7 linked regions of the Homo sapiens genome follow. The protein of the gene in region 5 purifies or fractionates together with the protein of the main gene of each other region. This does not show direct contact. Each region holds a gene or a part of one and is shown on either strand. Other genes may lie near its edges. The genes, in order: CEP97, CNOT2, BACH1, ISCA1, NLK, WDCP and MYBL2.

Evidence for each region.
Region 1: the proteins of NLK (region 5) and CEP97 purify together in Homo sapiens (affinity purification with mass spectrometry; one large-scale study listed by BioGRID and IntAct). This does not show direct contact.
Region 2: the proteins of NLK (region 5) and CNOT2 purify together in Homo sapiens (affinity purification with mass spectrometry; 2 studies listed by BioGRID and IntAct, with this or other methods). This does not show direct contact.
Region 3: the proteins of NLK (region 5) and BACH1 purify together in Homo sapiens (affinity purification with mass spectrometry; one large-scale study listed by BioGRID and IntAct). This does not show direct contact.
Region 4: the proteins of NLK (region 5) and ISCA1 purify together in Homo sapiens (affinity purification with mass spectrometry; one large-scale study listed by BioGRID and IntAct). This does not show direct contact.
Region 6: the proteins of NLK (region 5) and WDCP purify together in Homo sapiens (affinity purification with mass spectrometry; 2 studies listed by BioGRID and IntAct, with this or other methods). This does not show direct contact.
Region 7: the proteins of NLK (region 5) and MYBL2 purify together in Homo sapiens (affinity purification with western blotting, with the first as the bait; one study listed by BioGRID). This does not show direct contact.

The regions. Positions count from the first base shown.
Region 1 is NC_000003.12:101,730,842-101,735,025, reverse strand, and holds part of CEP97 (centrosomal protein of 97 kDa), read right to left. Parts: intron 3,187-4,184; coding exon 3,073-3,186; intron 2,539-3,072; coding exon 2,372-2,538; intron 1-2,371. UniProt on the Homo sapiens protein: Acts as a key negative regulator of ciliogenesis in collaboration with CCP110 by capping the mother centriole thereby preventing cilia formation. Required for recruitment of CCP110 to the centrosome.
Region 2 is NC_000012.12:70,336,866-70,341,049, reverse strand, and holds part of CNOT2 (CCR4-NOT transcription complex subunit 2), read right to left. Parts: intron 3,662-4,184; coding exon 3,537-3,661; intron 3,295-3,536; coding exon of another isoform or gene 3,265-3,294; exon of another isoform or gene 2,631-3,264; intron 2,608-2,630; coding exon 2,487-2,607; intron 2,385-2,486; coding exon 2,228-2,384; intron 1-2,227. UniProt on the Homo sapiens protein: Component of the CCR4-NOT complex which is one of the major cellular mRNA deadenylases and is linked to various cellular processes including bulk mRNA degradation, miRNA-mediated repression, translational repression during translational initiation and general transcription regulation.
Region 3 is NC_000021.9:29,301,505-29,305,688, reverse strand, and holds part of BACH1 (transcription regulator protein BACH1), read right to left. Parts: intron 486-4,184; exon of another isoform or gene 367-485; intron 1-366. UniProt on the Homo sapiens protein: Transcriptional regulator that acts as a repressor or activator, depending on the context. Binds to NF-E2 DNA binding sites. Plays important roles in coordinating transcription activation and repression by MAFK.
Region 4 is NC_000009.12:86,275,754-86,279,937, reverse strand, and holds part of ISCA1 (iron-sulfur cluster assembly 1 homolog, mitochondrial precursor), read left to right. Parts: exon of another isoform or gene 1-1,721; intron 1,722-4,184. UniProt on the Homo sapiens protein: Involved in the maturation of mitochondrial 4Fe-4S proteins functioning late in the iron-sulfur cluster assembly pathway. Probably involved in the binding of an intermediate of Fe/S cluster assembly.
Region 5 is NC_000017.11:28,048,720-28,052,903, forward strand, and holds part of NLK (serine/threonine-protein kinase NLK), read left to right. Parts: exon of another isoform or gene 1-207; intron 208-4,184. UniProt on the Homo sapiens protein: Serine/threonine-protein kinase that regulates a number of transcription factors with key roles in cell fate determination. Positive effector of the non-canonical Wnt signaling pathway, acting downstream of WNT5A, MAP3K7/TAK1 and HIPK2.
Region 6 is NC_000002.12:24,030,100-24,034,283, forward strand, and holds part of WDCP (WD repeat and coiled-coil-containing protein), read right to left. Parts: intron 3,159-4,184; exon of another isoform or gene 3,107-3,158; intron 2,848-3,106; coding exon 2,730-2,847; intron 1,064-2,729; coding exon 834-1,063; 3' UTR 1-833.
Region 7 is NC_000020.11:43,670,114-43,674,297, reverse strand, and holds part of MYBL2 (myb-related protein B), read right to left. Parts: intron 493-4,184; coding exon 399-492; intron 1-398. UniProt on the Homo sapiens protein: Transcription factor involved in the regulation of cell survival, proliferation, and differentiation. Transactivates the expression of the CLU gene.

The sequences.
Region 1 (4,184 bases), on a different chromosome or scaffold from region 5:
AAGGTAGTACCGCTATTCACATTTTACAGATGAGGAAACTTAGCCTCAGAAAAGCCCTAAGGAACTTGACAAGGCCACACAGCTAATAGATAGCAGAGAAAAAAGTGAAGCCTTCCCCTGTCTATCGTAAGCAGGTCTCATCTCTCTTTGTGGGTCTCTCTTTACACCAAACCTTTATCTCTGCCCACATCACCATGCTGCCTCTCAGACATGAAAATGTTGCCAGTCCTACTCCCACAGAAGAAGTCAACAACTGTACAGAGGATTATCCAAGTAAACCCATATTCCAAATCTAGAACTAGTCACAGTTTGAAACAAAATAAGGTTTATTCTCAGAGCAACATTCACAGCAGGAAAAAGAAAAGCCACCCTTTCCTGTAGGCAAACTAGACCTGACATATGTCCCTCACCCTACACCAGCACCACCACTATCTAGCTCTTGGCTGCCATTCCTCACGGCCCTGTGCTTTACTCAGAAACTATACAAAACAGCAGAGAGACAGAGAAGGGAGACGCTGTCTGTAATCTACCACCCGTCCTCCCATCAGGAAACTCCTGAAGTAACTACTGTCTGTAGTAGAGAAGAACAAAAAAAGGCGAGGGATAATGTATGTGTTGAGTCCATAATGCATGTGTGTATGTACTGAGAGAAAAAAGTTAAATGAAGCATAGTAGACAGAATAAAGTCATCTCAACTCTCACTATCCCAATTCCACTCCCTCCTTCCCATATCCTAGTTCCTTACCTCCCCTAAAGCTCTCATTCCACTGATCAGGTATCAGGGTCCAGAAGACTCCATTCTGCAGGGATCCCAGCTCCAAGCCACAGAAACTATTAATGATTTACAGGTGGGGGAATTCTTGCTTCTGCTGCTTCACAGGTATAAGAAGGGGAGAACCTGGCCAGGTGCAGTGGCTCATGCCTGTAATCCCAACACTTTGGGAGGCCGAGGCGGGCGCATCACCTGAGGTCAGGAGTTTGAGACCAGCCTAAACAACATGGAAAAACCCTGCCTCCACTAAAAATACAAAATTAGCTGGGTGTGGTGGCACATGCCTATAATTCCAGCTACTTGGGAGGCTGAGGCAGAAGAATCGCTTGAACCCAGGAGGTGGAGGTTGTGATGAGCAGAGATCGCGCCATTGCACTCCAGCCTGGGCAACAAGAGTGAAACTCAGTCTCAAAAAAAATAAAAAGGCTGGGCGCGGTGGCTCACGCCTGTAATCCCAGCACTTTGGGAGGCCGAGGCGGGTGGATCACGAGGTCAGGAGATCGAGACCATACCGGCTAAAACGGTGAAACCCCGTCTCTACTAAAAATACAAAAAATTAGCCGGGCGTAGTGGCGGGCGCCTGTAGTCCCAGCTACTCGGGAGGCTGAGGCAGGAGAATGGCGTGAACCCGGGAGGCGGAGCTTGCAGTGAGCCGAGATCCCGCCACTGCACTCCAGTCTGGGCGACAGAGCGAGACTCCGTCTCAAAAAAAAATAAAAAATAAAAAAATAAAAAAAAAAGAAGAGGAGGACCAATCACCACATCTGCTACTAGTTCCAAATTAAAACTCTGCATTTTCCCAGAGTTATCATTATAATGAGTATTTGGAGAATTCTAAGATACTACTAATACTGCCCTTACATGGCATTTGGAGCTGGATGATAAAATAGAAAATAAAATGAATAAAAAATACGGCCCTTATATATGTGATAGATTAATATATTACAAGCTTTTGTGAGACTGATCTGAGATCCTACACAGGATCTATAACATGATGGTTTCTAAGCAAAAGTGTTCCAAGCTCCAAACAACTGATTAACAAAAGAACTTTTAGAAATCAAATTGTTGTATGTAGGGCACTAAGACTACTAGCTCCAATCTCTGGGGCCGAGATTTCTTCTTTTTTTTTCAGAGACAGGGTCTCACTCTGTCACCCAAGGTAGAGTGCAATGACACAACCATAGCTCACTGTAACCTTAAATTCCTGGGCTCAAGCAATCCTCCCACCTCAGCTTCCTAAGTAGCTAGGACTACAGGTGTGTACCACCACACCCAGCTAATTTTTTTTTTTTTTTGAGATGTGGTCTCCCTATATTGCCCAGGCTGGTCTCAAACTCCTGGGCTCAAGCAATCCTCCTGCCTCGGCTTTCCAAAGTGCAAGGATTACAGGCATGAGCCACTGCACCAGGCCAATATTTATTTCTTATCCTTTTTTAGAAATGACAGAAAATCCTAAATGACCAGCATATAGTCTGCTACATGACTGCACTAATACTCTTGTTATCTAAATGCACATTTTAAGAAATACTCTATTAATCTGTAGTAAACTAGAAATGGTCTTTTCAGTAACATTTGTGATGTTAAAGAGCACATGTTTACCTTTCCTTCTGAGAAATCACATATCCATCTAGGACTCTGAGGTTTAGGCACCAGCTGACGATGTACGGCCGATAGTCAAATCCTGGGATGGATGGTGTTGCCATCACACAAGGATTGTTCATAATCGACAACTGTTCCAATTCAGTTAAGGATGCCAAAAAAGAGATCTGGAACAAAAGATATCTTTGTTGAACAAAAGGACTATTCAGTGTCAAGCACAAAATTTCCACTGATTACATATCTTTGGCAGCATTTGAGAATGTGATAATTTCCCTCTTGTTCTGAAAAGTGACAAGTGTCCATTGACTTCCAAAGTTTCAACAATATAGCCATCTGTCCCTGCTGCACAAAATCCCCTGGCAAATATCAGCACTGTTTCCTAGCAGAAATAACCCTATTTTGAAAACATCACAGCAGCCAGGAAAGGTGGACAGGGAGTCTTATAAACCCTTATAACGTAGATGTCCCTCTACCACCAATCGCCTCCCAGTGGAATGATAATTACAGCTTTACAAAGGAAATTAGACCTTAATGACCCACTGACACTAAGGAAAAGTGGAAAGATCTAGAGCCAAGCATTTCATATGAATGGCAGTTTCTTCCAAGATGCTCACAGTCTAAAAGTAAGCTCACAACCCTCTCCTGTGTCTTTCCTAGGATTTCCAGCTTCCTGAATCTCACAAAATACCCTCAAATTTTACCTCATTTAAGTCTCGGATTTCATTTTCTGCCAAAGAAAGTATAGCAAGACTTCTGGGTAGGTAAGCAGGTGCCATTCTAAGAGAGGTGATGATGTTTCCATGTAAAAGCAGGGTCTTGAAAGTAAAAACAGTATGAATTACAAATGAAAAGATTACAAATAAATTGGCCTATTGTGACAACACCAAAATGGTACATATAAGAATAAAGGAATCTACTTTATTATATTTCTCATCACACACAAATCAAAGACTGTTAATGCTACAAGGGTCCTTGATGATCTTCTGGTCCAACTCTCTGTTTTCATACCAACATCCTAAGCTCATGATATTTTAAAGACTTGTCCAAAAACACATGCTTGGCATAGCAACTAGGCATGCTGTGAGATTTAACTTATGAGACACTGAGCAATTTCTAACACACTTTTTCATTTTCTTTTAAAATATCAAAATAGAGGCCATGTGTGGTGGCTCATGCCTGTAATCCCAGCATTTTGGGAGGCCAAGGAGGGAAGATTGCTTGAGCCCAGGAGTTTGAGACCGGCCTGGGCAACATAGTGAGACCTGGTCTCTACTAAAAATCAAAAAATTAGCCAGGCATGATGAGGTGCACCTGTATTTCCAGCTACTGGGGAGGCTGAGGTAGGGGGATCACTTGAGCCCAGGAGGTCGAGGCTATAGTAAGCCATGACTGCACCACTGCACTCGAGCCTGGGTGACAGCAAGACTCTGATGTCTCAAATTAAAAAAAAAAAAAAAAAAAAGTCATTAAAACAACCACATATAAAGCAAATTTTCCAAAAAAGAGAGTGATAACCTACATCCATAATTGCAACTGTATTCTCTAGGTAACTAAAAAATAAAGGGAGGTAGAATGTGTTACTTGCAGATAAAGCTGACTCACATTAAGTCAGCAACAACCAAGAATAAACCCAAAACTGAACACCCAGGATTCTGATCAGATAAATAGGCTTCTATTCCAGCAAAAAAAAAAAAAAAAATTCAATCATCTTTGGTTCATTTGAATTCTCTTAGCATCTATTAGGACAACATCTGGCTACATCAAAATGTTTAGAATAATTATTGCTAAAAATGATTTCTGCTAAAGATCTGGG
Region 2 (4,184 bases), on a different chromosome or scaffold from region 5:
TTAGCTGGGCATGGTGGCACATGCCTGCAATCCCAGCTACTCAGGAGAATCGCTTGGACCTGGGAGGTGGAGGTTGTAATGACCCGAGATTGCATCACTGCACTCCAGCCTGGGCGACAAGAGCAATACTCTGTCTCAAAAAAAAAAAAAAAAAAAAAAAGATTTGGGGTTTTTAATCATAATGAAACCACAAACATTTACTGGGTGTTGAGCAGAGGAGTAATGTATTAAAAAAGGATTGTCTTGGCTGTTATATGAAGAGATTGTACGGGAAGGGGTATAAGGACAATCAGGGACCCCCAGTGACTGGCTAATGGAGTATTCAGGCAAGAGAGAATGATTCAAACAAGGGTGGTAGCAGTTAAAAGTAGTGAGCTTTGGTTAGATTCTGTATATATTTTGGGAAAAGCCTGATTATGGGGTATAAAAGAAAGAGGAGTTAAGAATAATGCCAAGTTTCTGGAAGTACAGAGTTACCACTAACTGAGATTGGAAAGGCTGTAGACAGAATAAGTTGGGGGGTGATCATTCAAGAAATATTTAATTGGCAATTGAATGTAGAAATCTCAAACTCAGAAGTGTGGAATGGAAACATATGTTTGGGATTCCTCAATATATATGGTATTTAAAACAATAAGACTAGAAAAAGATCATCAAGGATGTAAATGCAGAGAAGAGGAATGACACTGAGGTCAAGAAGAAAAGGAGGAGGTACCAGCAAAGGAAACTGAAAAAGACCAACCAGTGAAGATGAGGTAAAAATGGTGCTCTCAAATTCAAGTACAAGAATGTGTATCAAGGAGCAAGAGTTCCTCCAAGTGACCACTGAATTTAATAACATGAAGGTCATTTGGTGACCTTGATAAAAGCAGCTTTAGTGAAGTGGCAGGGACAAAATCCTGACTGAAATGGGCTTACCAGAGAATGGGAGAAGACCAAGTCGGAGAAATGGAGATGACTCTTTGAAAAGTTTCGCTTCAAAGGGAAATAAAGAAATGGGAAAGTAACTTACGGAGGAGGTTGGATCAAAGGAAGATTTTCTTCTAAGATGAGAGAAGTAACAATGTATTTCTATGTTGATGAAAATGACCCAACAAAGTGTGAAAATGTGTTGTAAGTAGAACGCATGGGTCAATTATGGTAATAGGGTGGAAAACAAGAATAACATAGGTGTAGGTGGCTGTAGGTAGTCAGATTTGTTGGCTAGACTGTGCTAAATGTGCTCTTCTAATTGCTTCCATCTTTCTTAGTACAGTAAAAGTGAAAAGCAAGATCATCATTTGATAGTAAGAATAAGGAGAAAAGGTATTAGGGGCATGCAGAAGTGTACGATAGTTGCATAAGAGAGCAAAAGAGTAAATGGACTAAGCATGCAAGGTATAATTATCACTGGTAGAATTAAGAGCCTACTTTTGAGGCTCCTGGGCATGAAAATAAAGGAAGACCAGGCAGTGATATCATGTGTTTTTCTCTAGCAGAGCTCAGTAGCACAGGTCAGGAATGAAATAGGCAGAAACAATCAGTACTGTAGCTTTGGCCATGCAAGTATAACAACATGAGAAAATGGCAAGTAGTCATGGGATATGTAAATGAACAATTATGACTGACCACAGAATTTCATGGGTAAGAAGGGAGTTGATCACAGGGGAAAAGAGACGGGGATCTGGAAGAACAGTTAAAATACCGAAGAATCAATAGATTGAAGGTCCCAATGGAGTGAAATGATTACAGGAATCACAGTACTAGAAGAAGAGAAATAGAAAATAGAAAGTGGAAGTCGGAAAGCATGCGAGCTCAGATTTTAAAATTGAGAGACTGCAGTTACGAACAATGACTAGGTCAAAGGGATAACTAAAGGAGTGGCTGAAGTATACTACAGGACAAAAATTCCTGGAGGAAAGAAATTCAAGGAGCTGAGATTTCAGGATTCTGGAAGGTGTGTGTGTGTGTGTGTGTGTATATATATATATATACACACACACATATATACATGCACATGCACACACACACACACACACACACACACACACACACATAAAATGCCAAATTATAAAAGGAATACTGCAGAGTGACAGTGATCTAAGAGCTAACATGAATGGGAATGACCCAGAGAATCAGCAGGTTAACAATGAGTAGCAGTAGGTGAGATAATTTGATGACATGATATTAAAAACTGGAAGTCTGAAGAGGTATTATATACAGACATGGAAAAACAGAAAAAACTTACTCAGGAGAGTTCAGATTGAGGCCTAATGTTGTTAAGTCACTTCCTAATGCAAGATGTACCATTCCTGGGTCTGTCTCTGCTGCCCTGATAAATGTTAACAGGCCAATCATTCCAAATTGGTCCGTCACCATCCCTTGAGGAATGTTAGTAACCCGACCTGGGTAGGAAAAACACAGTTGCTTTTATTTTCAAGAAAAAGTTAAAAAATAGAAAAAAAAGCATTCTATAATATCTTTGACATAGATTTCTAGAGTCCCACCATCAGGTAACACCTGGATCCCTTTTTTCTGCTGGTTATTATTTTGTGTTGTTGAACTTTTATCTCCAGGGAATTTGGGTCCATCTGTACTTGAAGTTGTCTTGCCAGATGTATTCAAATTCTAGCATGAAAAAAATTAAATGTGACATTAAAATTTGTTAAGTATACAAATTCAAGTTCACATATTAATACCTTGCTATTTATTCTTTATTACATTTAAATTGGTAGTTAAATTATTACCTGTTTTTCAAGTTCTATAGAAAATTGTTTCCATCATTGTTCCATGGTATACAAATAAATCCTATATCATCCACATTTGAGTATTTAAAGAAAAAGAAATCAAGGGAAAATATCTTATTTATCTCAGATCTTCAGTCACAGAAAAAAAAAAATCTATCTCTTTCTCAGGTCTTTATGCTTTGGGATACACTTGAAGTTACACTCCTCAATGCTTTCATGTAAAAGAGAAACTAAATATAGTATATTACCTAAAATCACCAAAGCTACCTTGAAGATAAGTTAGACATACAAGCTTTAAAACTTTGTACTTATTTTAATTCTTACCGATCTTCTTTATCAATTATTTTAATAATATATAAACTCCCATCACACACAGAGAAAAGCTATTTTCAGTGAAATGTGGAAGAAATAAACATATTTGTTAAGTCAGAAAGAAGAAGCTGAGTTGGTTGAATCAACACAGGTATAAAAATGTGTATAAATTCTTCAAGGAGAAAACTTACTCAAGAAAAACACAGCTCCTTAGAAGGCTATATTATCAAACTTCATGGGATCCAGCTGACAGGGACTACAATAAAAGTCTAAATTAACTCTGAGAAGTTCAACAGAAATTTGCAAACCTATATGAAATAGGAAAAAAATAGGCTATCTTCTAAGTTATAAAGCTTTTCCACATTCTTCAGAAGTTAGGTTATTACAGATATCAAGATAAAACAGTTTTGTAATAGTATTTAGTAAGTAATTGTTAATATAAGAGAAATCTGAAGGGAAAAACTACATCACTCACATACACACTTCTCAGTTACTTACAGATTTACTGTCATCATTACTTGATGTTGGATCTTTATAGCTGGAGCCTGGTAATGCTGGAAAATCTTCATTGTGTATTGAGAAGTCCTGGGATTGTTCATTTGCTGGTTTTGTTACCATTCCAACTATGTAATGAAAATAATCCGGAGAATTGCAATTGATATTTATGATATTTTGCTACAGATTATAAAGTTAACTTTCCTCATGATAATACACCAAAAGGTTTCTTTTTTTTAATGCTATGAAAGCGTACTTCAAAAAATTAGTATCCAGGGTAACAATGAAGAACTAAATTTTCATTTACTGATTAATAACTCAACATACAAAATAATACAAGGGAAATCAACAGTAATCCATGTCATGCGTAGGTGCTTAAAAATTTAATTTGATATTGGATTAATTATTAACAATTTTGGTTTAAAAGCTTGTTTTATTTAAATATTTGACTAGATATTATAAATACCAGTTAACTCTCAAATACAAATGAACAAAATAAAATTTAAAAGAATATGTCAGTATTCTACTTGAAAGCGACTTACAGAGTGAGCAAATTGCAATCAATTATAAAACAACTCCATATTATTTCAGATTTTCTTGGACTCCATGTTATAGATGTAAAACATGCAAGAACTGGGAAATAATCCTCCC
Region 3 (4,184 bases), on a different chromosome or scaffold from region 5:
GCCTTGAAACTTAAAAACACAGTTTTTCCTCACTCTTCAGAGATTAGAGAGCTGTTCCAAGCTAATTCAACAAAAAAGAAGAGGCTGTTTCCACACTGGCATCTGAGAAGCAGTGGTAGGATAGCTCTCTAGAATCTCAGCTCCTCTGCTATTTGTGACCACTGTTGCCAACCTGCTCAAAGAAGAAAAGGTGGCCCAGCCTTTCTGGGGTCTGGAAAAAGACAAACTAGTCCAAAGACAGGAGGCCCTCAGAGACAAAATATACTTTTTAGAAATCTAAAAAAAAATACCTATAGTTTGAATAGCACTTGTGACAGTCTTTTACCACAAAGAGACAACGAAGTAGGGAAAGTTAATCGTAATTACATGCTCATCCCCAAGCAGCATTTCCTTTGACTTCTCTGGATGACAACTGAAACTGAAGGCATGCCAGCAAAGAATCCGAGTGAGCTGGGCAAAATGCTCTCTACTTCAACAGTCTTTTGCTAATGTGAAAGAAAAAAAAAAAAACAAGATTACAAAAGCCAAAAGCTTTTTTTTTTCTTACCTCTTTTAACCTGAATTATGACTCTTACCTAGGGGAGTACCCAAGGCCAGGCTGAGATACACCTCAGAAAAACAGTTGATAAAGAGACATCAGGTACACTGGAAATTGAAGAGGCCTGGGCCAAGATCAGATAACCACTGTACATTTTTTAAAATAATATTTAAATATAAAATACACATTAATGAAATTACAACCTAATAAATTTATTCAATCTTTTATAGCCACATATTTTATAACAAAACTGTCTGATGGATGAGCAACTGCACTAATTTAGCTGACTTCTGAAAGACGCTGGCACACTTTAGAAAATGAATAAGGCAATAAGCATGTGAAGATATCAGTAAAGAGGAAGTTGGGTGGATAGGTCGCCCTATTTCTTCAATAGGACCCTCAGGAGTTCACCTCCTTAGGACAAAAACACCTCCCTAGGGTCCTGGAGGCAGACAAATCAATAAAAAGAAGAGATAACTGGAAAAAAGGTGTGTAGGGGGAGGGAGGGACATTTCCCTTACTATACTATTTACTCTACAGCCTTAGAGGTAGGCTATTACTAATGTCCAGGCTACAAAGGAATTGAAAACCTTTTTTAGTGTAATTCCACTTTAATGAGGGATGGGGAAGTAGAGTGCAACTGTCCACTGACTGATCTGATCTAAAAAAATGATAAATTTAAAAAGTGAAAAAAACTTTACCTGAAAGAAACTGGGAATAATTAGGGGCCAGGCACAGTGGCTCACGCCTGTAATCTCAGCACTTTGGGAAGCCAAGGCGGGTGGATTGCTTGAGGTCAGGAGTTCGAGACCAGCCTGGCCAACATGGTGAAACCCATCTCTACTAAAACACAAAAATTAGCTGGGCATGGTGGGGGGTGCCCCATAATTCCAGCTACTACGGAGGCTGAGGCAGAAGAATTGCTTGAACCCAAGAGGCGGAGGTTGCAGTGACCCGAGATCGCGCCACTGCACTCCAGCCTGAGCGACAGAGTGATACTCCATCTCAAAAAAAAAAAAAAGAAAAAAAAAACTGGGAATAACTAGTTTATTACAAAAATATTAGTTTGAACGATGACTTTCCTAAGGCACTGCAAAAAGTGTTTACATTTATTTTTCAAATAACATGATCTGCACAAAATTTCAGCTGCATTAATGTAACATTTTCTAAATTGTGCCCGTACTGAGAAGGAACCAGCTGCCAGCCAATTTCACTGCATGCCCACTGTGTTTCTACACTGGTCATTAACAACCAAGATTCTGGCTACCACTATTTCTTCTTCCTCACGTTTGCTTCAGGGCAGTTTTTTATTATCCTATGAATATTTGAATATTTTCTAACCTGTCCCTGATCCTAAATAAAACAAAGAACCTGTTCTAGAGGAGTGATATTCAAAGTATTAGACATATAAGACATTTAACATCTAGAAAACCAAATTATATTTTGCTCAATTCAATTCTAATCCAATTATGGGTAAAAATAAGTCACAAGACAAGTTTTATGTCTATCTTAGGAGATGAACTAGAATTACTTAATTCCAGCTGCCTTCTCAATAATCACACCAATGATAAAAACAGAAAGTAGAAAGCTAAATAATCAAAAGAATTTCAACTCAGTGCACACTTACAAGGTACCACACACGATGTTCTCTCCTTCAATCTGTTAAACATTCCCAAGTTTCAAAATCACAGAACTAGAATGAACGCATATCATACCACCCAGTTCAGCAACCAACAGTTTATTAAAGAAACACAGCCAAGGCACATTCAGAGTGCCATAGGAGATAAAACAGAAAGACACAGATTCTCACCATCAGGAAACTTACAATCTGGCTGAAAGAATGGTCAAAATAACACAACCTTTCTGAATTACTAACAGGTACAAAAAGCTATACGATAAATATGTCCATTGTATTCATATCCATTTCATGGATAATTTTTCTGTATTAGTACAGGCATATCATCTAAAGAAAACATAATACTTAGAAGAAACTAATTAGCTTACAAATTTACATTCTAAATGTTTCCAACAAACTGGATAGGGCCCAGGAATATGTACTGAGAAACTAGTTCTGTTCTGGTATTAACAAGAAGGGAGGGGTGGACAGGTTACTAAAGCTGCCAGGCCACAATGTCAACTACAACGTGGAAAAGACTAGCCAAAGAATGGCAAGTGTTTTTATTTCGTAAAAGCCAGTTTCAATTAACTGGTTAGTGACTACCTCAAGCACTCCGCTGAGACTGTTAAGATTCCTTTAAGTAAAAAGCTATGTCCTGTGTTCGTTGCCCTCAGAAGTTGGATGTATGTTTGAGATGGTGCTACTGACTTAACATAAGAGTGTTCCCCGGGTTGTTTTTCCAGTCTCACTTGTGATCAATGCCGGCAATTCAGCTCTCAACAGCTATAAAACACTACTGTGTAACTAAGTACTTCCCTGATTCTGAACAACAGATAATAACACCTAACACTTGATGTTTCTTATAAAGCTGGCACTGTTCTAACCACTTACCCCGTATTAACGCATATAATCCTCACAACAACCTCTCTGATACAGATTCTACTATCACCACCCCTGTTTTACAGAGGAAACAATGAGGCACTAGTTACCAGGTAGAAGAGCTTGCCCAAGGCTTTAAAGTGGGTGACACAACCAGAACCTGACCTTAAGCAGTCTGGCTCCAGAACTACTTTTTAACCATTCTGCTTACTGCTTCTTTGTCAACTGTACAGTGATCAAACCCAGACTTCAGTTATGTTAGTGCACTGTGTAAGCCAGGTGCCTGGGCTTCAGGAGAGTGTAAGTCAATGTTTTAGCTGCAGTCCTGAAATGTTTACTCCCTCCAAGGGGCACGGATTCTGGCGAATTGCACTCAAATTACCCATACCTTGGCCATCGGTACATTACCTCATTTGACATATATTTTAAATCAAAACAATCTCAAAAATCATCGTTCCACCACATAAAATAAACCCTCTGTCTAGAATGCTCAGGGAATGCAGGTTTTAGGGTTAAGACAATTCTCTCATTAACAGAACATTAGTCAGAAAATTAGAAGAGAGGTGGTGATTCCTAAAACGTAAGTCATGGAGAGATCAGCACTATGAAGAGAAAATCTGACAAGTGGTAATTTTAACGGGCTTTGCAACTGTTATTCTGAGCATCACCTCTCACAGTACAGGGGTGTAGAAGGCACATGGCACATGAGATTTAACTGAATGGTAAATACTAACCACCCTCACCGCCGCCACCCGCCCCCAGCACTAGTAGGAGGTTGATATTCTGAATAAATGCCACTTCCCAAGGGATTTACTGAATATGTCGTCTTATTAATCTTAAGAGAACATAAGCTTGGCAAAAAACAAACAAAAAAAAACAGACTTCAAGGAGTAACAGTACAAACTAATTTTTACATATGCTATACATATTACACTCCAATGTGTAGATTATCTTCAAGTATTTCCACTGCACCCTTTTACACATCACTGCACTTCAGATCACATACATTAAACCAACCGCTGGGCTTGTCTCCAAATTCAAAATACAGGTTATCAAATGAAATTCTGTATTTTTTGTATTTCCATCCCCAGTATCAACAATGTAACAAGAAATTTACACTCAAGCTTCTAAAGTAAAACATACAGACAA
Region 4 (4,184 bases), on a different chromosome or scaffold from region 5:
GAAGGCACATCAATGCTGTTTTCCACACAGCCTGTGTTGGTGGGCTTGCAGTCATTTTAGTTCCAGCATTCGTGCCCTAGTCAGGACACTATGGCATGTATTGCTCTTTGTGCTTAGTTTATCATCAGCATGTATCGTCAAGTGCAAAAGTAGTGATGCCGTCAAAGGCCTAATGAATGGAGACAGATAAGAGAGCAAACAAAAGTATACGTAATTCAGTAAAACTGATTGGAAGAGGTAAATGTTACTTGGGTCTAATAAGTAGAGACAGATAAGAGCAAACACAAGTATACCTAATTCAGTAAAACTGATTGGAAGGGATAAATGTTACCTGGATATATAAATTTTGATGTTAGGAATTTGACATGTTGCAACATTTGAAAAGTGCTATATGTGTGGAGTCTACCAGATGTCAACAAAAGGCTAGGAAAAGTAACTGATAATATAACACAGTTCAATGCTGTCATTATCAGATTATCTACATCTTCCCTATTTCCCTACATATCTAGAAATTGACAAGTGGAATTGAACTTGCAGGAGCCAGATGTGATTAAAGAATCTGAAGAGTAAATAGTGCCCTGCTTGCAGACAGATTTATTTCCATCATTGTACAAGTCAGAGCAACTCTAATTTGTAGGACTGGGGTGGATCACAGCTGTGCATTAAAACTCAACCAAGTTCTATGAGAGAATGATGGTGCACAGCCACTATCATTCTTGATGAATTCATTGTGTACGGAAGGTGCCTTAGGGCTTAACTTTCTATTGGAGTCCAGTTGAGAAGCTAGGAAATGCTTAATGCTCAGTAAGGAACTGTGTGTTAGTTCATTGGACTAGAACCAGAAGTCCTTTTGAACAGTGACCAAGCACTAAGATTTCTATACGAAGGCAGTTTAGGAAATACTACACAAGAAGCACTGGAAGTAGCCTAGCAGTCTAACAGTGAAAGAACGGTTAAGTACGTGAGAGTAGATCCTGTTGGTGAAGGATGTAGTCATTGTAAATTATGGTTTTTTTTAAGTTTCAGCGTTATAAATCTTCATTCTTTGACTTATGCTGTGCAAATTATTTAATCTTTAATACCTAAATCACAATGGCAGGAATAAAAAGATGTTACGTTTAAACCATTAAACACTTAGAAGGTGCTCAGTAAATGGTGAATATATGTTTATTACCATGTATCAAATGAAAAAATAATTTGTTAAATTGTTTCAATGGAGGCTGCAAAATTATGTATATATGCCATGATTACAAACCTTTTTCTTTTTAGAGACAGGATCTTCCTCTGTCACCCAGGCTCATATGCAGTGGCATGATCATGGCTTACTGCAGCTTCAAACTCCTGGGCTCAAGCAATCCTTTCACCTCAGCCTCCCAAGTAACTGGGACTACAGGCACATGTCACCTTGACTGCTAATTTTTTTTTTTTAATTTATTGTAGAGACAGGGTCTTGCTCTGTTGCACAGGCTGGTCTCAAACTCCTGGCCTCAAGCCGTCCTCCCACCTTGGCCTCCCAAAGTGCTGGCATTACAGGCATGAGCCACCACACCTGGCCTACAAATATATATTTGTATATTATATGTATTTTGGATGTGTATATACACATATACACAAATAAGAAAAGACAAAAGAGAATGCTTTTGTCTTTTCTTATTTTGACACTCTAATGCCAGCCATGGCTGTTAAAGAATGATTTTAATAAAATACACTGTACTTGTTCACTGGCTCTATTTATTTACCATCTTTTGTTCCCCCAGAAAATTGATATGTTGACATTAAAATGCCATGTTTGTAGAGAAATTAAGTTGTAGTTGTTGGCACATGTTTAGTATGCATAATCACAGAGTTAACTTTAGCTTTGAATTTAATTTAATTTTCTTAAACAGCAAAAAATGAAAATTGCCTGGGGAGTTACTTAAAGAAATACAGGATTGAGAATGAAAAGTTTCTCCTACAAGGATTAGAAAGCGTGTTGCTATGAAGTAGTGATAAAACATTCATCTACAATGCCTTTTCCCTTAATTTTAACAGCGGAAACATCTTGGAAATATATTTATTTTTCAATTAGGCCAAAATACCTTACCTCAAAGATAACCTCTCACTTTAAAAGTCATATTCCTGTGATTTGCATGTGAGTAAAAACCATCATATTTTAGTGGGCTTCAGGAAGCTCTTAAATTTTAAAACATGGGCCAAATCTCAGGTAAGCTATATTCATTAATAGTACATAAATTTCTTGAGAATTACATGTTTCTTAGTTGTTCTGGGAAGTGCACTGGTACTGGCAGGCTGCTAGGCCCTGCAGCATGCTGTGTAGTTGAAGATTTTATGCTGTTTCTCACATGAATTTTACCTAAGCACAAAGTTGCCAGAGTATGTAGACTTAAAGCAGGGTAGGATTCTTAGCCTCTCCCTGGTACTGAGACACAAAAAGTACCTCTTATAGCTCGATTTTTTTTAAGTCCCAACTCTTCCCTTTTAACCACTCTCCCTTGTTCTGAAAATCAGATCAGTCACTTTGAAAGTTCTAAGAACCTTTTCCCTTGGTTGAGTACTGACCTGGGTTGTCCATCATTAGTAACACCCTCCCAGTGGAGTAGGTTTGGTTTTGGCCTGGCACAGGAAAATTAAGACATATTTTAGTTCCTGTAACAGCAGCTTCCCAGGCACACAGGTTCCTGTTGAATGTTACTTTTCCCTTAAAGAGTCCTTCAGTATGAGATGTGAACATCAGCAACTTGGTGATAAGTAGACCAATCCCCACGAATTGCTTTCATTTACTGTATTTAAGTGTTTCCTGCTAAAAGTTGAGAAAATAAGAAAATAGATGACTTTGTAAAACCAAATTAGATAATTTAGAAAACCACTTGGAGATAAAAAAAATTATATATTTGGGGCTGGTAAACGGAGTAGTGTGACAGACACATTTGTTTTGTTTAGATCATGCAGTGGTGTGCCCATCTGTGCCTTTGATCCACTCAGATTAAACCAAGACCACGTTTCAGATTTTAGTTCCCGCGGATATTTTCCATGGCTATGCCTTTTTTTTTTTTTTTTTTTTTTTTTTGAGACAGAGTCTCACTCTGTTTCCCAGGCTGGAGTGCAGTGGCATGATCTCGGCTTACTGCAGCCTCCGCCTCCTGGGTTCAAGCGATTCTCATGCGTCAGCCTCCGGAGTAGCTGGGATTACAGGCGCATGCCATCATCCTCAGCTAATGTTTGTATTTTTAATAGAGACGGGGTTTCACCATGTTGGCCAGGCTGGTCTCAAACTCCTGACTTCAAGTGATCCTTCCACCTTGGCTGACCTCAAGTGATACTTCCACCTCGGCCTCCCAAAGTGTTGGGAATATAGGCATGAGGCACCAGGCCCAGCCAGGCTATGCCTTTTTAAAATAAACTTACAGAAAGCTATTTTTATTTGACAGTAAGTGATTAATTTCTTCAGCATGCACATAGGAAAATATGGTGAAAATTTACATGTGGTTGATAAGAAAGCTAGCTTTTATTGACAATCACTTAGAACAGGGGTCCCCAGTCCCTGCGCTACAGACTGGTACTGGTCCATGGCCTGTTAGGAACAGGGCCTCACAGCAGGAGGTGAGAGCAGCAGGCAAGCCAAGCATTACCACCTAAGCGAGCTCCACCTCCTGTCAGATCATCAGGGGCATTAGATTCTCATAGGAGCACAAACCCTAGTCTGAACTGCAGGTGTGAGGGGCTAGTTTGTGCACTCCTTATGAGAATGATGCCTGATGATCTGTCACTGTCTCTCATCACCCCTAGATGGGGCCATCTAGTTGCAGAAAAACAAGCTCAGGGCTCCCACTGATTGTATATTTTGATGAGTTATATAATTATTTCATTATATATTACAATGTAATAATAGAAATAAAGTGCACAATAAATGTAATGCATTTGAATCATTCAGAAACCATTCCCCTTATCCGTGGAAAAATTGTCTTCCACGAAACCAGTCCTTGATGCCAAAAACATTTGGGACCACTGCTTTAGAAGGGTAATGAGCACTTTAAAAAATAATAACTATTTCTGTAACTATTTAAAGTTGGTATTCTGTGACTCAAAAAACAAAAACAAAACCATAATCCTGCTCTTCCCTGTTTTCTCCTTCCACCCTGTGTGCTACTTCCTGCGTTGGAGGACTGCATGCCTCCTTTTCTGAC
Region 5 (4,184 bases):
TTCTATATTGTAAAACTGAGTGACTATTCTTGGTCGTTTTTATTAGATTTATTGATGTCCAAGCAATACAAGAATTAACTGTTCATATACTGTATGTTTCCTTAACATGCTTATTTGGTTTCTTTGATGGAGATTGTCAAGGCCAAAGAAACTTTTTCATTTGTCATCCAACCAATAAATGGACAGAAGCTGTTAGAAGCTCTTTAATTATGCGTCTCTTTGGGTTTTAATTCTGAGTCCCTGTGCCTCTGTGCTACTCCAGTGAATTATTTGTTGATTGGGCCATCTAATACAGGTCAACAATAACTAAAATAGCTTGTCAGTGTGATCCTGATATTGCTTGGAAGTAACAGAGTGTCTGAGGCAACAGTTGTAACACTGTCAGTGAGCACATAACAAGTCATGATAGACATAGTCAGTAGTTGTAAGGTACCTAGTGCAGAAACAGAAAAAACTGGTACTCTGGCATTATGGAAAGATGACTTCTAAGTGAACTCTACTGAGATTGAACTTTAACTCTTAGTTGTAATGGTGTGAGTAGAGGGAGTATATATGGGGATGTCTGCCACTCATAATGATTGGTGCTCTTTACCTAAACCCAGTTTTGAAATAATTTGGCTAATTGAGTCATATCTACTATGAGGCAGTGAAAGTTTTTAACACCTTTGGAACTCACTAGTCTATATATTTTTATTGTCACTTCGCTGTGGACCAGCACTTTTGCAAGCACCAAATGGGGATATTTAGTCTTATAAATAATTTTGCGAACCTCTATTAAGCTGCTGCTGCTGTTGTCTGTATTGTGCTTAGTACTGAGGTATAGGGATGTTTAAGTCACCATATTGCTTTGGAGGAGTTGACAGTCAAGTAAACAATATGAACAATGAAACATGCCTACTCTCAGGGTGTCCTCAGCCTTGGTGGAGAGGTGAAACTAAATTTGAAACCATTAAATAAAAACTTAAGAATATATTATTTTCAGGCCAGGCATGGTGTCTCACGCCTGTAATCCCAGCACTTTGGGAGGCCGAGGAGCGGTTCACCTGAGGTCAGGAGTTCAAGACCCTCCTGACCAACATGGTGAAATCCCGTCTCTACTAAAAATGCAAAATTAGCTAGGTGTGGTGGCACATGCCTATAATCCCAGCTACTTGGGAGGCTGAGGCAGGATAATCACTTGAACGCAGGAGGCAGAGGTTGCAGTGAGCCAAGATCGTGCCGTTTCACTCCAGCCTGGACAACAAGAGTGAAACTGTGTCTCAAAAAATATATATATTATTTTCACTTGTTCTTACAATATTCAATTATTGTATGTTACTATTTGCCAGGCACTGTGCTGGAGATAAGGATTAAAGGTGATTATGACCTACTGGGTGAAATAGATTTGTAAATGGATTATTATAATTCATTGCCATAAATGCAGCAATAGAGATAGTCCCTGGACATTAAGGGCGTGTAGAGGAGGGATTTCTATGGAAGGTCAGGATGCTTCCTAAAATAGGTAATTCTTCAATGAGTTTTAAGAATGAGAGTCAACCAATGGGGAAGGGCAGTCTAGGTGGAAGGGCCTATATGCAGGAGACTACAGGGCTGGAGATGCTGAATGTGCAGTGCAGTGGGTGGTAGGAAGTGTAAGCTAGAGCTCAATCATGAAGAGGTTGGAATGTCATGCTTGAGGCACTAAAAACAGCTTTTTATTAATAAAGCATATGTGGACATATAGCACATAAACAGTTAAATAGCATATCTGTGGTATTAAGATTTTACGAGGGGATGATTAGGAAAATAGCCTAAAAAGGCTCCGTAGGCGGGCAATGATGAGAAAAGGTTAAAACTGCGAATGGCAACTACTGAAAGTTTTTAAGTAAGAGAGACTTCGTCAGATTTAATTTTTTTTTTTGGATATGTAAAATAGAAGAGTAGAGAGAACTGAGATCTGTCTGAGTCTTAGGGAATGTTCTCAGTTGTAGGTGGAAGAAGCTACTGGAAGCAGAACTAAAGGGCAGTTAGGAAAATGTGTTCACAATGATTGACAATCTAAGTATGGCAGAAGATTGTTAGGAAAATGGGAGTGATCTTTGGTGCTGATAAAAAGTCAAAGAAGGCCGGCCATGGTGGTTCACACCTGTAAACCCAGCACTTTGGGTAGCTGAGGTGGGCATATCACTTCAGCCCAAGAGTTCGAGACCAGCCTGGACAACATAGTGAAATCTCATCTCCACTAAAAGTACAGAAAAAAAAAATTAGCCTGGTGTGGTGGCACGCACCTGTAGTCCCAGCTACTCAGGAGTCTGAGGTTGCAGTGAGCTGATATCACACCACTGCACTCCAGCCCGGGCGACAGAGTCAGAACCTGTCTCAAAAAAAAAAAAAAAAAAGTCAGAAAATTAAGATGGAGAAAAGGCCAAAAGGCCATTGTATTTAGCCTGATAGTAAATAGATCATTGATGGCATTTGAGAGAGTGATTGTGTTTGATTGATTCTAAAGAATGTCTTAAGTATTCAGTATTACTTTTTACAATTTTTTAAAATTATTAATACAATTCTTCCAAATCTCATTTGTTTGTTTGTTTGTTTGTTTGTTTGTTTTTAGTTTAATAAACCAGAGAACTTGATGTTCAAGGTGCCATTTCCTTGGGAAGGATTTTTTTTTTTTTTTGAGACAGAGTCTTCCGCTGTCACCAGGCTGGAGTGCAGTGGCATGATCTTGGCTCATGCAGCCTCCACCTCCCAGGTTCAAGGGATTCTCCTGCCTCAGCCTCCCGAGTAGCTGGGATTACAGGCACGTGGCACCACACCCGCCTAATTTTTGTATTTTTAGTAGAGACGGGGTTTCACCATGTTGGCCAGGATGGTCTCGATCTCTTGACCTCGTGATCGGCCTGCCTCGGCCTCCCAAAGTGCTGGGATTACAGTTGTGAGCCACTGCGCCCGGCTTTTTTTTTTTTTTTAAACAATGGGGTAATAGATTACTAAACTAAACTTGTTAGGAGACAAGGTTCTGGTCCTAGCCTTGCTGCCAACAACCCTGTGACCTTGGTAAAGTTATTTAAACTTTCTGAGCCTTGGTTTTCTCATTTATAAAATCCTGTGTTTCCTAAGATTCTATTATAAAATGATATTAATATTTGTTGGAGTTTGCTGGTGACCACAAGACAACTTTCTCTCTTCAGGACTACAGTGTTGAATAGCTTCTAAAATTGTTTAAAGGAGGAATGAGATAAATGTCACCCTGTTCCAGAGTGGTGACTTTTATAGAGTTTTCTAATTTGGGATTAGATTTTAAATGTTCATTTTTTTTTCATCAAGAGACTTGTTTTCTTCTATTACTGAGTTATTGGTAAGGATTATACATGTAGTTCAGCTGTGGAGAAGAGCAGGCCTGTTTGCAAATGAGCAATTTCTTCTACATGTCCATTTGATACTACTATTTTCCTGATAATATTTACCTTTTTAGTGTTTTAGACTTTAAAAACTTGCTTAGTTTCTTATAAGTCTTACAATAGTTTTCTTACAATATTTTGAGTGATTTTTAAATTTTTAAATAAAATTTAATGTTCAGTATTTTGTCATCTTTTGTGTGTGAGTAATCAGGTAAGATGATTTGGGAGCCAGTGCTTACATTAATTTGCAAGTTTCTTTAAAACAAATTTCTTTCCAGGAGTCTCTTTTAAATTCTGAATTTGGATAAGAGAGTTACTAGTTTGCATGTGGGCCTCCCAGAAAATGAGCTTTGACACAGCTTTCAGGCTGTAGTAGTTTAGGGCTTACAGTGCCCAAAGAGGGAGAGTGACTTCCTAAAGCTCTTGTCCAAGAGGAAGGGAGCATTTTTGCAGACACCCTCAGCAAACCAGCAGTGCTATCCAGTAAATACATAGTGAAAGTATGCAATCTTAAATTTTCTAGTAGCCACAGTAAAAAACTGAAAAGAAACAGGTGACATTAATTTTAGTAATGTATTTTAACTCTATATCCAAAATATTGTCATTTCAACATGTATTCACTATAAAAATTATTAATGATCTATATTACTTTTTTTTCATACTGAGTCTGCAAAATCACTATGTATCTTCATGCTTAGAATATGTCTCAGTTTGGTCTAACCACATTTTAAGTGTTCTGTAGCCACACATGGCTACTGACCAGCACCAGCATATTGATCTCTGGTGTTTTTTTTTTTTTTT
Region 6 (4,184 bases), on a different chromosome or scaffold from region 5:
GAAAAATAGGAAAGTTGCGTGATCCCAAAACTGGATTTAAAAAAAAAAAAAGTTATTTCAGGGACACTCATGAGTGGCCACAGCACAAAATCCTGCAGTAGGACTTACCTGGGCTCGACAGTGTGGTAGCAGCATCGGCACAACCTCAAGTGGAACCCAGAGGGGACAAATTCCCTTGAAATTTCATTCAAAATTTTCCCAGGGCCAGTTTTTAAGAGTACCTGGACCTTCGTCAGCCAGAATTTGTTAAGGAAGCAAGAGGGTTTGGTTTAAATTCTGGGAGGTCCAGGCAACATCAGAGCCACTTCCTGTTCCTGAGAGCAGAAGCCAGTGGGTCTCTGGTCCTCCTTGGAGCTCTGCTAATTCTTGCTGGTTTGAGGTTAATATGCTAGAGCACATGCCCCCCAGCAGACTCCTCAACCTCCTCTTGAAGCCAAGAAAAAGACCTATAACAATGCCAAGGTATCTTTTAAGTGCTCCTAAGACAGCTTCAATGCAGCTTTGGACAAGGGACACAAAGCCTCAGAGAAACCATAAAACACCATCCATATGGCACCATAATATTGTTTTGTTCTGAGAATTCTGCCCTTAGTCAAAACCACACAGTCATGAATACATAAACACCACTTTCGGAGCCATCTAATAAAGACTGAGCTCTGCTACACAGCAGCGAGCCTCAGCTCAGGGGAAACAGGGGGAAACCAGGAGAGCCGACCATGGCAAGCGCTTCGCCTGAGTGCAGTGGGAGTCTCATTGGCGAGTGTCCAGTGTCAAGCAGGCCTTGTTTGTAATGGTCTCATCTGAAGAGCTACACAGCAAGGACACTGCAGATATCAAGCCATGCCATCTACATGGTTACAACAGCCAGTGGTATCTAAACTGGGGGCAGCAAGGCCTGTAAAGACTTTAAGAGAAGAAACAGCACCTGGACTGTGAGAAAAAGAGTCTCTGAAGACATCTGACCTGGACAGGCTGCCATCTCTTATGATTATTTCCTGTGTGGCTGTGAAGGTTAACGGGATAAAGCCCTCACTGTCAGCAGAGAGAAGAATCCAGTGGGAATCTGCAAATAAAAATAAATACACAGGCAATTTAGTATATATTATTCTTATGATGAAACATATGACTACAAATTTTTTTTTCTGAGTGAAGGAATATAGTAGTTGATAATATTCAACTCAATCCTTGTAAGATTTTACAGAGAATGGGGTATTGGGAAGACTGGGTATTACTTAGGGTCAGGTAGGAGAAAAAGGGGAAAAAATGAAATGATATTTGATGTTCAATGTGGTGGCTACTGTTACAAGAATGAGGCATAAGAAAACAACCATGCTCCACATCTGATGAATCTGGCATGACTCAGTCCCTTGCCACTTAGGAATATCCTTTGAACATCCATGTTTACTCCATATTAGAATGGCAACTCCTCAAAGAAATATTCTGTAGGCCGGGCGCAGTGGCTCACGCCTATAATCCCACCACTTTGGGAGGCCGAGGCGGGCAGATCTCGAGGTCAGGAGATCGAGACCATCCTGGCTAACATGGTGAAACCCCATTTCTACTAAAAATACAAAATATTAGCCAGGCGTGGTGGCATGTGCCTGTAGTCCCAGCTACTCGGGAGGCTGAGGCAGGAGAATCGCTTGAACCCAGGAGGCGGAGGTTGCAGTGAGCCGAGATCATGCCACTGCATTCCAGCCTGGGTGACAGAGTGAGACTCGGTCTCAAAAAAAAAAAAAGAAAGAAAGAAACATTCTGCAATGCTGCTATGATCTTTACATTTTAGTGCAACAGAAATAAATGAGGCTTTCTGTTACTTCCTTGCAGTTGTTATACACTGCTTTGTAAGTCTTTTCTTATTTTTTCATATGTACATTTAACTTTTCCAGCTAGGCTGTAAGTTCCCTAAGGGCAGGGTGCATATTTTCCATATGTTTTGGCACCTATACTAGGCCTGGGTATATAGTAGGCAATTAATAATATTTGTTAAGGCTGGGTGTGGTGGCTTATGCCAGTAATCATAGCACTTTGGGAGGCCAAGGTGGACGGATCACTTGAGGTCAGGAGTTCAAGACCAGCCTGGGCAACAGAGTGAGACCCCGTTATCTACAAACATTTTTTTTAAACTTGGCTGAGGCTGGGTGCAGTGGCTCACGCCTTTAATCCCAGCACTTTGGGAGGCCGAGGCAGGCGGATTGCCTGAGCTCAGCCTGGGCAACACAGTGAAACCCGTCTCTACGAAAATACAAAAAATTAGCCAGGCATGGCAGCGTGCGCCTGTAGTCCCAGCTACTCAGGAGGCTGAGACAGGAGAATTGCTTGAACCCGGGAGGCGGAGGTTGCAGTGAGCTGAGACTGCGCCACTGTACTCCAGGACCGGGTGGCAGAGCAAGACTCCATCTCCAAAAAACAAACAAACAAACAAACAAAACTTGGCTGGGCATGGTAGTGAACACCTATAGTTCTCACTAGTTGGGAGTCTGAGATGGGAGGATTGCTTGAGCTCAGGAGTTCGAGGCTGCAGTGAGCTATGATCACACCGAGGCACTCTGGCCTGGGCAACAGAGCAAGACCCTGTCTCAATAATAATAATAATAATAGATTACTTGTTAACTATCCAGTGAATTACTGAATGGTTGGTATCCCTCATTTTCATTACCGGCATAGTTAAAACAGATGGTGGGGGAGGCAAGGATGTTAGCTAGGGTCAATTTCTGAGCACGACCTACCATGTAGCATTTCAATGAGAGAAAGGCCAAAAGTCTGCTGAACTGTACTGAGCCTTAGTTTACCATCACAGAGAAGCACCGCTCTTTTTTCAACAACAGGACCTAGATAATAAGGTTTCTGCAAATAAAAAATAAAAGTTGTTAAACTGATTGCAGAAGTAATCGAGTTAACATTTCTTAAGAAAGGAATGTGTAAATAGTTTTTTAAAAAATTCTTATCTATTACCACTAATCAACTGGACTTCAGTTTTAAGGAGCTCTTTGCTGCATTATTTAACACAACTAAAAAATCCGAACAAAACAGCCTTATTTTTCCTTTTGTTCTACTCTTTCCTCAGGGTTCTTCATCACTAGGAACTGGCTCTCCTAGAATACAACTAATAACACTAAAAGGATGATGGACAGCAGCCTGAGAGACACAATCTGACGGTAAGAACACCTTCTTGGCTGTTTCAGATATAGCTAAGACACCTCATGGTTTATTAGGAAAAAAAATGCCGAGAGAGTGTCCTAAGTGGTAGAGTAGCAGAGGATTTGCATAAAATAAACAAACCATGGTCAAAATTCACATAGCTTAGAAAAAGCACAAATAAAAATAAATGATTTGTAAATTTTAAAGTCATTAAAAATTGGCTGGGCACAGTGGCTCACCCCTTAGTACCAAAAGTTTGGGAGGCTAAGATGGACAGATCACTTGAGCCCAGGAGTTCAAGACCAGCCTGGGCAATATGGCAAAACCCTGTCTTTACAAAAAATAAAAAAGTTAGCCAGGCATGGTGGTACACACTTGTAGTCCCAGCTACTCGGGAGGCTGAGGTAGGAGAATCACTTGAACCCAGGAGGCAAAGGTTGCAGTGAGCTGAGAAGGTGCCACTGTACTCCAGGCTGAGTGACAGAGACAGACTCCATCTCTAAATAAATAAATAAATGAAGGACAGTTGTATAAGTTATGTGTCTAACTTATTTTGTTGTTAAGCACTTTGGGAGGCCAGAGTGCATGGATTGCTTGAGCCCAGGTATTGGAGAGCAGCCTGGGCAACATGGCAAGACCCCATCTCATAAAAAGAAAATAAAACTATACATCACTGTGGTAGGATGAACCACTCAAAGAATATGTCCACTAATATTTTTAAATGAAGTCACAGGAATAAACTGTAAAAGTCAAAACCAACTAATCATTTATTTCACGTCTTATGAAATGTAATTTCTGAAATTACAGGGGAAACTATTTCTTGCTTTTGATTATTGTGTAACTTTTACTTTTCTCATTACAAAAGGAATAAATGATCAATTTTTTAAAAGTATAATAGGGCCGGGTGTGGTGGCTCACGCCTGTAATCCCAGAACTTTGGAAGGCCAAGGCGGGTGGATCACTTGAGGTCAGGAGTTCGAGACCAGCCTGGCCAACATGGTGAAACCCCATCTCTACTATAAATACAAAAATTAGCTGGGTGT
Region 7 (4,184 bases), on a different chromosome or scaffold from region 5:
GCCATTGCCCTCTAGCCTGGGTGACAAGAGCGAAACTCTGTCTCAAAAAAAAAAAAAAAAAAAGGGTGGGGGGAGTTACAGATTTGGCCAAACCTCCTAGCAGTCAAAAGGCAAAAAGCACAATCAATGTCCATGACATAGAACATGGCAGCTGCTCAGGAGACACAATGGGCCCTGAGGTCTAGGACACACATCCCCTTCCCACCCACTGAGTCCTCAAAATTGAGAATCCCCCAGAATGCTCTGAGAAGAGGCATGAGGACAATCAGAGGACCCATCCCTTCCTTCACCGGCTCCTCCTCTTCATCCCATCTGATGAGACATCAAATACACTCCAGGCTCAGTTCCTCTGGACAGCCCCCAGCTGCCATCAACCCTCTCTTCCCCATGGCACTCACCTCCTCATGGGTCCATTTGACCTTGCACTTGCTATCCCTCTGCTCCGGCACATCTGAATCTGTGTCCTGGTAGTGCAGCTCATCCAGATCCTCGCTATGGGGAAAGCAGGCCAAGGGTCAAGGATGGTGTGTCCATATGTTTTACATAATGGAGAACGTGTAGGCAGCGGCCAGCCCACCCTAGGGAAAGGTCTGGGGGAGAGAGGCTCTTACTTTTTCTTCTTTTTAAGACATAGGCACTTCTGCTTCACTTATTTTTATTGAGACAGGGTCTCACTCTGTCACTGGGCTGGAATTCAGTGTGGCATGATCGTAGCTCACTGCAGCCTTGAACTCCTGGACTCAAATGATCGTCCCGCCCCAGCCTCCTAAGTAGCTGTGACTACAGGGGTATGCCACCACGCCCGGCTAACTTTTGTATTTTTTGTAGAGACGGGGTCTCACCATATTGCCCAGGGTGGTTTTGAACTCCTGGGCTCAAGCAATCCTCCCACCACGGCCTCCCAAAGTGTTGGGACTATAGGCATGAGCCACCACACCCGACCTCACCTCTTTTTAAATTTTTTAATGAAATAGGGTTAAGAGCTACTTTCTTCTTTTTTATTTTCAGGAATGCCCTAGTGATTTCAAAAGCTGTAAAAAAAAAAAAAAAAGAGGCCAGGCACAGTGGCTCAAACCTGTAATCCCAGCACTTTGGGAGGCCGAGGTGGGTGGATTGCTTGAGGTCAGGAGTTCAAGACCAGCCTGATCAAACACAGTGAAACCCCATCTCTACTAAAAATACAAATATTAGCTGGGTGCGGTGGCGCATGCCTGTAATCTCAGCTACTCAGGAGGCTGAGGCAGAAGAATTGCTTGAACCCGGGAGGTGAAGGTTGCAATGAGCCGAGATCATGTCACTGCACTCCAGCCTGGGTGACAAAGCAAGACTGTCTCAAAAAAAGAAAAGGAAAAAGAAAGTTAAGATTTCACCAAGAATATTATGTTCAAAATCAGACTATCGCTTTTTCCTTTCAGTAACAAACCTGCATGGATATTTTAAGGAATAAAGTTGATGAAGTTAACAGGCATCAAGATTTTAAGAGATATTAGTTATTTGGAAAAAAAATTCTGAATATATTCTCTATGTCCATTTGTTGTTTTTCTTCTTTTAGGGACAGAGTCTGGCTCTGTTACCCAGACTGGAATGTAGTGGCATAATCACAGCTCACTGCAGCCTCCAACTCCTAGGCTCAAGCAATCCAATTCTCCCACCTCAGCCTCCCAAGTACCTGGAACAACTTGCATATGACACTATGCCTGGCTATTTTGTATTTTTTTGTAGAAACATCTCACTATTTTGCCTAGGCTCATCTGGAACTCCTGGCCTTAAACAATCCTCCCACCTTGGCCTCCCAAAGTGCTGGTATTACGGGCCTGAGCCACTGTGACTGGCCAAGTTGTTTTTTCGTGTGTTGATTTTTTTTTTTTTTGTAATGACAGGGTCTCAGTATGCTACCCAGACTGGTCTTGAACTCCTGGGCTCAAGGGATCCTCCTGCCTCAGCCTTCCAAAGTAACTTGGATTACAGGTGTGCACCACCGTGTCTGGCTTATGTCCATTTTTGCAAATCCCTTTTCAATCCTTGCCTACACACAGGCATAATTAATGGAGAGAAAAATCAGTGTACAGTATCTATTTTTTTTTTTTGAGACGGAGTTTCACTCTGTCACCCAGGCTAGAGTGAAGTGGCGACATCTCAGCTCACTGTAACCTCTGCCCCCCAGGTTCAGGCGATTCTCCTGCCTCAGCCTCCTGAGTAGCTGAGATTACAGACGCCTGCCACCGCGCCCGGCTAATTTTTTTTGTATTTTTAGCAGATACAGGGTTTCACCATCTTGGCCAGGCTGGTCTTGAACTCCTGACCTCGTGATCCACCCGCCTTGGCCTCCCAACGGGCTGGGATTACAGGCGTGAGCCACCGCGCCCGGCCCAGTGTACAATATCTTCTAACGCCGCTGTAGGGGAAAAAAAAAAAACAGTACGAGCTGCTTTGAATTCTGGGTGTTTTTACTCTACAAGGCAATCTTCCAAGTTGCTCCAAAAAATCCTCGTATTTATCCAGTTTAATAGTTACAAAAATGGAAATCGGGCCAGGTGTGGTGGCTCACACCTGTAATCCCAGCACTTTGGGGCCAAGGCAGGCAGATCACCTGAGGTCGGGAGTTCGAGACTAGCCTGACCAACATGGAGAAACCCCGTCTCTACTAAAAATACAAAATTAGCCGGGTGTGATGGTGCATGCCTGTAATCCCAGCTACTCAGGAGGCTGAGGCAGGAGAATCGCTTGAACCTGGGAGGCGGAGGTTGCGGTGAGCCAAGATCAAGCCATTGCACTCTAGCCTGGGCAACAAGAGCGAAACTCCATCTCACAAAAAAAAAAAAAAAAAAAAAAAATGGAAATCAGCCGGGCGCGGTGACTCATACCTGTAATCCCAGCACTTTGGGAGGCCGAGGTGGGTGGATCACAAGGTCAGGAGTTCGAGACCAGCCTGGTCAACATGGTGAAATGATGTCTCTACTAAAAATACAAAAAAATTAGCTGGGTGTGGTGGCATGCGCCTGTAATCCCAGCTACTCGAGAGGATGAGGCAGAAAAACTGCTTGAACCCAGGAGGCGGAGGTTGCAGTGAGCAGAGATCAGAGATTGTGCCACTGCACTCCAGCCTGGGCGACAGACGAGACTCCATCTCAAAAAAAATAAATAAATAAAAACCCACAAAAATTAGCTGGGCATGGTGGCATGTACCTGTAGTCCTAGCTACTCGGGAAACTGAGGCAGGAGAATTGCTTGAACCCAGGAGGCAGAGGTTGCAGTGAGTCAAGATCGTGCCACTGCACTGCAGCCTGGGCAACAGAGGGAGACTCCGTCTCAAAAAAAAAAAAAAAAAGAAAAAAAAGAAATCATAGGATCCACCTCCAGAGATGTCAGGTGCTTGAGGAAAGTTAGTAATCTTTCCCCAACTCCACCCGACAGGACCTGCATCAGGTCACGTTGGTCAGGTAAGTTGCTAGGTCAGACATTTGTAAACTGGAAAAAGCTTACAGGTTTCCAAACAAGGCAAGTCTTGTTTGGAAATGAAACAAATGAAAGAAGGCTTACTGTGCTATCCACATTACCTTCTCCTTGTTCTCCAAAGCTCACCGTTGCTTCCTAGAGTCACTCCTATACTTCCATAGCACATGGGAAACCCTCCTGTCTCGGGCCCTTACACTGCAACTGCCTGTCTCCTCCACATCATCTACAAAGGTCAGCTCCACCTTGGCATCCCAGGGTTTATCACCAAAAGGGCTTAAGAAATGTTTGCCCAGGGACTGACTGAATATACAAATAAATGAAAAAATGTGCAAAGCTGCTGCCTATTAGTCAATAAGAAATACTAATTAAATTTTTTAGGCCAGGCAAGACCCAATTTCAAAAGAAAAAAATTTTCAGAAATAGGAAAGGAGGGACGGTGTCTACAGTCAGCAATACAGAAGGATCTGGAATTCATTCCTGACCCAGTTCATGGGTCCTCCACCACTTCAATATAGAAGGCAAAAATCCAGAAGATACTAATAACAGAATGAAGTTGGCTTTAAAATCAACTGCCCCCAGACAGCTCGTGACAGAAACCATCTTTGCTTCTCCAGCATCCAGCACAAAGGCCTGGCTTCTAACAGAAGGTCAGCAAATATTCTTTCAAGGATGAAATGATGTCTGCATGGACACTCCCTGGTGCTCCAATGCTGTTTGTTTGTTTGTTT